Linked DNA regions of Homo sapiens: all the other regions are linked to region 2. Evidence: fine-mapped expression QTL. A gene starts in region 2. Each other region holds a variant in brackets. All regions are shown on one strand. Distances are between the middles of the regions.

Evidence for each region.
Region 1: its variant is fine-mapped to the expression of RSPO4 in uterus (GTEx, PIP above 0.99).
Region 3: its variant is fine-mapped to the expression of RSPO4 in thyroid (GTEx, PIP above 0.99).

What each region holds. Positions count from the first base shown.
Region 1 is chr20:1,025,223-1,028,066 of GRCh38, reverse strand. No RefSeq gene overlaps it. Among named protein-coding and RNA genes, the nearest start is that of RSPO4, 24 kb to the right of the region's middle. The variant A/G (reference allele first, on the strand shown) is at 1,597.
Region 2 is chr20:1,001,123-1,003,622 of GRCh38, reverse strand. RSPO4 (R-spondin 4) reads left to right here and starts at 1,312. Exons shown (of 5, transcript NM_001029871.4): 1 at 1,312-1,537. The coding sequence starts at 1,459.
Region 3 is chr20:956,672-959,515 of GRCh38, reverse strand. RSPO4 (R-spondin 4) reads left to right here. Exons shown (of 5, transcript NM_001029871.4): 5 at 1-1,064. Among named protein-coding and RNA genes, the nearest start is that of ANGPT4, 42 kb to the right of the region's middle. The variant C/G (reference allele first, on the strand shown) is at 1,098.

The DNA.
Region 1 (2,844 bases), 24 kb before region 2:
GGGACAGCACTGGGAGCTCAAGGCCATCGTGAATGGGCAGGAGGTCCCTGGTTCTGGAGCTGAGTTCAGTATCCGGGGTATGGAATGGACAGAGAGACTCCCCTGGGTTGGGGATAGGGGGTGATTTGTGGGTGATAACTATAGGATAAAGGCCGGCTGTAATCTTGGCTTGGACCACCTCCAGCTGGCAGCTTATGACAGCTGGAGACCCCTGGGAGTGACAGGAAGCATTTCTGTTCCTTCCCGTGGGCACGGTATATGGGAGGAAGCTCCCTGGCTGCCATCAGAGAAGGAAGGCCAAGCCTATTCCTGGGTTGAGACACAGGTGAATTTTCAAACGAATCCTTCTTAAAGGTGCTAGAGCAATGAAGATTAAAAAATCATTATTATTAAAATCATGGTTCAAGAACTATAGGGCTAAGCTTAAACCATTCAGTTTTTAAAAATTAAACCTTTAAATTTTAGTGAGAAAAAATGATTATCAAAATTCATCAAAAAGGAAAACCGGTGACTCAGGAGCACAGGAATAAATGCTTCCCATTACTCTCAATTAAGAAATTCACATTTTATAAAACACAAACTATAAAAATCCTGGAAAACAACTTAGGCAATACCATTCAGGACATAGGCACGGGCAAGTATTTCATGATGAAGACACCAAAAGCAGTTGCAATGAAAGCAAAAATTGACAAATGGGACATAATTAAACTAAAGAGCTTCTGCATAGCAAAAGAAACTATCAACAAAGTGACAACCTACAGAATGGGAGAAAAATTTTGCAAATTATGCATCTGACCACAGTCTAATACCCAGCATCTATGAGGATCTTAAATTTACAAGAAAACTACCCCATTAAAAAAGTGAGCAAAGAAGATGAACAGACATTTTTCAAAAGAAGACATACATGCAGCCAACAATTATATGAAAAAAAGCTCAACATCATTGCTCATTAGAGAAATGCAAATCAAAACCACAATGAGATACCATCTCACACCAGTCAGGATGGTTACTATTAAAAAATCAAATAATAACAGATGCTAGCAGGGTTGTGAAGAAAAAGGAATGCTCAGTACACTGTTGGTGGGAGTATAAATTAGTTCAACCATTATGGAAGACAGTGTGGCGATTCCTCAAAGACCTAAAGACAGAAAGATCATTCGACCCAGCAATCCCATTACTAGGTATATACCCAAAGGAATGTAAAGGCCAGGTGCGGTGGCTCACGCCTGTAATCCTAACACTTTGGGAGGCCAAGGCAGGCAGATCACTTGAGGTTAGGAATTTGAGACTAGCCTGGCCAACATGGTGAAACCCCGTTTCTGCTAAAAATACAAAAATTAGCCGGAAGTGCTGGTGGGCACCTGTAATCCCAGCTACTTGGGAGGGTGGTGCAGGAGAATCACTTGAACCCAAGAGGCAGAGGTTGCAGTGAGCTGAGATTGTGCCATTGCACTCCAGCCTGGGCAACAGAGCAAGACTCTGTCTCAAACAAAAAAAAAGAAGAAATATAAATTGTTCTATGATGAAGACACATGCAACTGTATGTTCATTGCAGCACTAATATCAAAGACATGGAATCAACCTAAATGCCCATCA[A/G]TGATAGACTAGATAAATAAAATGTGGTACATATACACCATGGAATACTATGCAGCCATAAAAAAGGGGAGATCCTGTCCTTTGCAGGGACATGGATGGAGCTGGAGGCCGTTATCCTTAGCAAACTAATGCAGGAACAGAAAACCAAATACCACAAGTTCTCACTCATAAGTGGGAGGTAAATTATGAGAACACATGGACACACAGAGGAGAATGACACACACTGGGGCCTACTGGAGGGTGGAGCGTGGGATGAGGGAGAGGATCAGGAAAAATAACTAATGGGTACTAGGCTTAATACCTGGGCAATGAAATAATCTGTACAACAAACCCCCATGGCACATGTTTACCTGTGTAACAAATCTGCACATGTACCCCTGAACTTAGAAAGAAATTCACATTTTAAACATACCATGGCTTTGACAAGGAAAAGGATATTTAATAGATAAAGATATTAAAGTAGCTTCCTAAAATTACTTTTTAATTACAAAAGAAAAAGTAAACAACTTTACAGTGGAGAAACTGGATGTCACCTTAACCAAATGATCAGTTAACACTAATAAAGGGACAAATTGACATTGTGTACCTCTTAATGTGATAGACTGAGAAGAACACAGCATCATTTACAAGATATTCCTGCCCAAAATGCATAACCTCAGTCTAATCATGAGGAGACATCACACAAACCCAAAGTGAGGGATGTGACATTCCATAAAACAACTAACCTATATTTTTCTTAAAGGCCAACATCATGAAAGACAAAGAAAGGCTGAGAAACTGTTCCAGATTAAAGGATACTAAAGAGACATGACAACTACATGCAACATGTAATCCCAAACTAGAAAAAAAGCTGTAAAGGACATTACTGGGACTGAACAAAATACAGACTACAGGTTAGTTAAAATGTATTGGGTGGCTGCATGGGGGGAACAGGCCTTCTGCCACACTGGTTGGAGTGTCAGGCCATTTGGCAATATTCACATAAACAGAATATTGCACCAAAGATGAAAGATACAAAATTGTATCCACTTTTTGATTCTATTTATATAAAGTCCAAAAATTAGCAAAACTAGTCTAGGGTGATAAAAGTAATAGAAGGGCAGTGATAGTTTTCCTTGAGAGGATAACAGTAGGGCTGCTGGGGTGCTGGTCATATCTCTTTCTTCATCTGAGTGATGCTGACAGGGATAAATACAGTTTGTAAAGCTTTATCATTTGCCAACCTATCTATGCACATTAAGTGCATAT
Region 2 (2,500 bases):
GCAGTGAGCCGAGATGGCGCCATTGCACTCCAGCCTGGGTGACAGAGTGAAAACCCATCTCAAAAAAAAGAAAAAAAAAAGAAAAGAAAAAGGAAGGACAATTGTTCAGCAAGAGAGTGTCAACTGTAAGTTTCTCTAGGCCTCCCTCCAAGGCCTCTTCCATTCTGATGAGTCTGTGCCTGAGAAGTGGCTAAGAGGGGCAGGCACTGGACCAGAATGGCCACTGACCTGCTGTGTGGCCTTGGGCAAGTCACTTGGCCTCTCTGAGCTTCCCTTTGCTCCCCAGAAAAGTGGAATTACTCAGAATACAAACCCAAACCATTGGGTTGTTTTGAAGACTCTAGTATATGTCAAGTTCTTAGCAATGCCCACCATATATGCCTCACAAATGATAGCTAGCATGATTGTTGTTGTTTTTGGTGGTTATAGTGACAGGAGAGGTGAGCATGCTGTCGGGTTGAAGGAGGAATTTTGCTCTGAAAGGGTTAAACTTGAACCAGCTGCTCCCAGTCCTGGTGATAAGGTTGGAGGAAACACAGTCCAGGTCCCCAGCCCTGTCACAAGTGGATTTATGAGGTGCTGGTCACTTTGAGTCGGAGTAGATGATCCCCGCAGACTGCACAGGAAACATTCAGGGTTAGTGGCCAGAAGGGGCTCAGGCCTCTGTTAAAAGAATGAGACAGAGTAGAGAGAAAAAGAGAAAGCCAGGCAGCAGGAGCCCCGCAAACACCCCACCCTGCAGGAGGGGAGAAGGGGAGAGATGGGGTTGAAGGGAGAGACAGAGAAAAGGGAGAACCAGAGGCCCAGCCAGGAGGACACAGACAGTGAGCCTGAGAGAGAGACGGCCGGCAAGAGTAAAGGATGCAGGAACAGCCAGGCAGGGTCGGGGGCAGAGCAGGGGAGCGCGGGCCGCGGAAAGACCGAGAAAGCAGGAGACAAGGAGTTGTCCTTAAGGGCCAGAAGGAGGAACAGACAGAGAAAGGGGACTGGGGGGAGGGAAAGAAAATCACAGGCGCTGAGAGGGCGCGGGGGACCGTACGGGTCTCCGGGTGTCCGCGCATCTGTACCTGCGCGCGCGTGCGTACCTGTGGCTGGCGGTGGGCACGTGCACGTGCTCGGGGGCAGTGCTGGGGGCGGGAAAGACGCAAGACCGCCGGCTGCGGGACAGATCGAACTCGAGGGCCCCGACCCGGGTGACCCCCGCCCCCTCCCCGCGCGCGCTCCCGGGCCCCGAGCTGGTTAACGCGCCGCCCCCGCCGCGCCGGCTCCTCCCCGCCAGGGCAGTGCCCCGGCTCCGCCAACGCCCTCACTAGACCTGGCGGCCGGACCGACCCGCGCCTGGCGGATGCGCCCGGCGCGCCCACAGCAGCCCCCGCGCCCGCCGTGCCGCCGCCGGGACGTGGGGCCCTTGGGCCGTCGGGCCGCCTGGGGAGCGCCAGCCCGGATCCGGCTGCCCAGATGCGGGCGCCACTCTGCCTGCTCCTGCTCGTCGCCCACGCCGTGGACATGCTCGCCCTGAACCGAAGGAAGAAGCAAGGTACAAGGGGTGGCTGGGCAGGGCGGCCGGGCAGGCGCTGCGGGGCAGACCGGGGGCCGGAGGACCGGGGGCGGCGGCTCTGGGGGCATCTGCCTGGTGCCTGGCGCCCTGGGTCCTTCGCTCCTCCAGACGAGTCTCAACCTCACTTAAGATGGGGAGATTGAGGCTCCAGGGCACCCAGTGAGCGAGCCATTGAGTAGGGTGGGCCAAGGAGACTCACCCAGAAGGGAGAGGGTAGCAGGGCTCTCTGTAGTAGCCGCATGGTCAGCAGAAAGGAGGATGGCTTCGTGCAGAGACAGAAGACTCAAGAGCCAGCCTGCGGGGCACAGGGACTAGGAGACAGACTCAGTGGCGTAGAAGCCATTCCAAGCATCCATGCTCGGCCAGGAAGTGACATAGAGAGCCTTGGGCTGGGCGTCCAGAGGCCCCAGTCCCAGCCTCATCACTCACCCTGACTCCTGGTGTCACCTCCCAGAGGGCAGTGATCCTCCATGGCCCCCCTATGTTGAGTTCAGCCAGACCTGAGACCTGAGTTCAGGTTCACTTATTCTAATAGGGGATGACCTAGAAGAAGTCCAGCCCCTCAGAGAGCCTCAGCTTTTCCATCTTCACCTCTCAGGCCACTAGGAAGATGAGCCAAGGTTCAGATTATAAATGTACCAGGGGCCGCATGCGCTCTCACCTGGGAGTCCTATGCCACAGCCTCGCTGTGAGAGTCAGAACATCCTCAGAAGGTGGGTTGGAGGCTGTCCCTGCAGAGCAGGAGTTGGTAGAGCCTGTGCCTCAGAGAAGGGTAAGCGGGTGAGCAAGTGAGCAAATCGCCTGCCTGAGCTGGGCAGCCCTTTGGCCTCCAGGTGCCACTCTTAAGATCAGCAGCCGAATGCCAGCCACTATGCCACGGGTTTTTCATGTCCTAGCTCATCAAATCCCAACTATATGCTCATGACATAGGGGTCGTCCAGT
Region 3 (2,844 bases), 44 kb after region 2:
GGGGGATCCACCTGCCCAGCCCAGAAGAGGCCACTGAAACGGAAAGGAAAGCTGAGATTATCCAGCAGCTCTGTTCCCCACCTCAGCGCTTCCTGCCCATGTGGGGAAACAGGTCTGAGAAGGAAGGGGCTTGCCCAGGGTCACACAGGAAGCCTTCAGGCTCTGCTTCTGCCTGATGGCTCTGCTCAGCACATTCACGGTGGAGAGGAGAATTTGGGGGTCACTTGAGGGGGGAAATGTAGGGAATTGTGGGTGGGGAGCAAGGGAAGATCCGTGCACTCGTCCACACCCACCACCACACTCGCTGACACCCACCCCCACACGCTGACACCCACCCCCACACTTGCCCACACCCATCACCGCACTCGCCCACACCCACCACCACACTGCCCCACACCCACCACCACACTCCCCCACACCCACCACCACACTCGCCCACACCCACCACCAGTGACTTGAGCATCTGTGCTTCGCTGTGACGCCCCTCGCCCTAGGCAGGAACGACGCTGGGAGGAGTCTCCAGGTCAGACCCAGCTTGGAAGCAAGTCTGTCCTCACTGCCTATCCTTCTGCCATCATAACACCCCCTTCCTGCTCTGCTCCCCGGAATCCTCAGAAACGGGATTTGTATTTGCCGTGACTGGTTGGCCTGAACACGTAGGGCTCCGTGACTGGGACAGGAATGGGCAGGAGAAGCAAGAGTCGGAGCTCCAAGGGGCCCAGGGGTGGCCTGGGGAAGGAAGATGGTCAGCAGGCTGGGGGAGAGGCTCTAGGTGATGAAATATTACATTCCCGACCCCAAGAGAGCACCCACCCTCAGACCTGCCCTCCACCTGGCAGCTGGGGAGCCCTGGCCTGAACCCCCCCCTCCCAGCAGGCCCACCCTCTCTCTGACTTCCCTGCTCTCACCTCCCCGAGAACAGCTAGAGCCCCCTCCTCCGCCTGGCCAGGCCACCAGCTTCTCTTCTGCAAACGTTTGTGCCTCTGAAATGCTCCGTTGTTATTGTTTCAAGACCCTAACTTTTTTTTAAAACTTTCTTAATAAAGGGAAAAGAAACTTGTAAATGCTTCTTGAGCATCAAGAGGGTGTTGCAAAAC[C/G]ATGATACTGCTGAGTTTGGAGTAGCAGAATTTAAAACATGTGGAGTGGTTTTCACAGGAATGCTTGGGGCTGAGAGGGGTCAGAGTGTATTGGGGATTGGGGTGGGGTTTCAGCTTGGGGGGAGCTGATAAAAGAGGAGGGGCCCTCAGCCCCTCCAGGCTACTCTCAAGAAGCAGACTCAGCCAGAGGCAGAAGAGGGTGACACCTCGATCCCCAGAACCTCGCAGTTTCACGAACCAGATGTCTCAGGGACCAGGGGTACCTAGGAGGTTGACAGTCCCACGGGGCCATCTAAACACCCTGGGCTGCTGGTGAGAGTGGCCTTGGCATTGGGAGGCACAGGTGGGAGCTCCAGCCTGTCACCAGCTATCTGATGGGGTCCAGGTCAAGTCACTTCCCCTTCCGGGGCCTCAGTTTTCCCATGTGATGAATGTGATGAAGAGGAAGCCTGGCTAAATTAAATCTATTGCCGAAATCTGGAAGACCCAACAACAGAATCCCCTGGGGAGCCTTTTAGAAATTCAGGTTTTGGGGCCCTCCCCCAGATCTATTCATTGCAAACAAGTTTAGGAGCAGGCAGTGAGAGCAAACATTCTTTCCAGGACAAGCTGAGGGGAGAGGTGGCTCTCAGATGACTTCCAGCTCAGAGGGCTGAGTCTAGATTTGCAGCTGCAATTCTGATTCTGACCTCAAGGCTCAATGATCTGATTCTACAGAGTTTAGTCTGTATGTGTGTGTGTATGTGTGTGTATCTTTTTAATTTTTTTTTTTTTTTGGCAGGGTCTTGATCTGTCACCCAGGTTGGAGTGCAGTGGTACGATCACAACTCACTGCAGCCTCAAACTCCTGGCCTCAAGCAATCCTCTTGCCTCAGCCTCCCAAGTAGCTGGGACTACAGGTGTACACCACCACACCCAGCTAATTTTTTATTTTTTGTAGAGATGGGGGTCTCAATATGTTACCCAGGCTAGTTTTGAACTCCTGGCCTCAAATGATCCTCCCACCTCAGCCTCCCAAAGTGCTGGGATTACAGGCATGAGCCACTGTACCCAGCCCCTATATAAATAAATATATATATAAATATATATATATATACACACACACACACACACACACATACATACACTATATAGTGTTTTCTGTTAAGATTCCAGTTTTAGGATGCTGAACGTTCTAATTTTCACAATTCTAAAAGACCAACATAAGGGTAGAAGTTTCCAGTACTGCAATTCCCTGGCCATGTTCTTTCTTCTTGGGGGGCCTGGTCCTCTGTCCTCAGCTGGGGGCTGTGGTGGTTTTTTAATATTTTCAAATTACAGGATGAAATTTCTTCAGGGCCTAAGCCCCTCCTATAACCTTTCCATCTCAGACGTTCCCTGCCCCCAGCTCCAATCCTTTCAAATCCCAGCCTCTCCCACATTCTCTGGAGGATTGAGGGGCCTCTCTGGGAAGGAGACTCTGCTGTCAGGTGGGCATCGCCCACTCCCTTCTTACAAGCCAAGCTTGGAGAAGTTCACAGAGAAGCTCAGAAACAGGGTGAGGTCACACAGCCAAAGAGAGGCAGTCTGGGCAGAGCCCAGGGGGAGGTTCCGCTGCTATTGGCCTTCTGGATGCTATGCCAGAGGGAGAGAACAACCCCTTGGCCAGAGCTGAGGAATCCCTGGTGGGTTCTTCCTGTCACCGCTTCCAACTGGGCCACACTAGGGCCCTCTCTGCAGTTCCCCCCACCCGCTCACTCCATCCTCA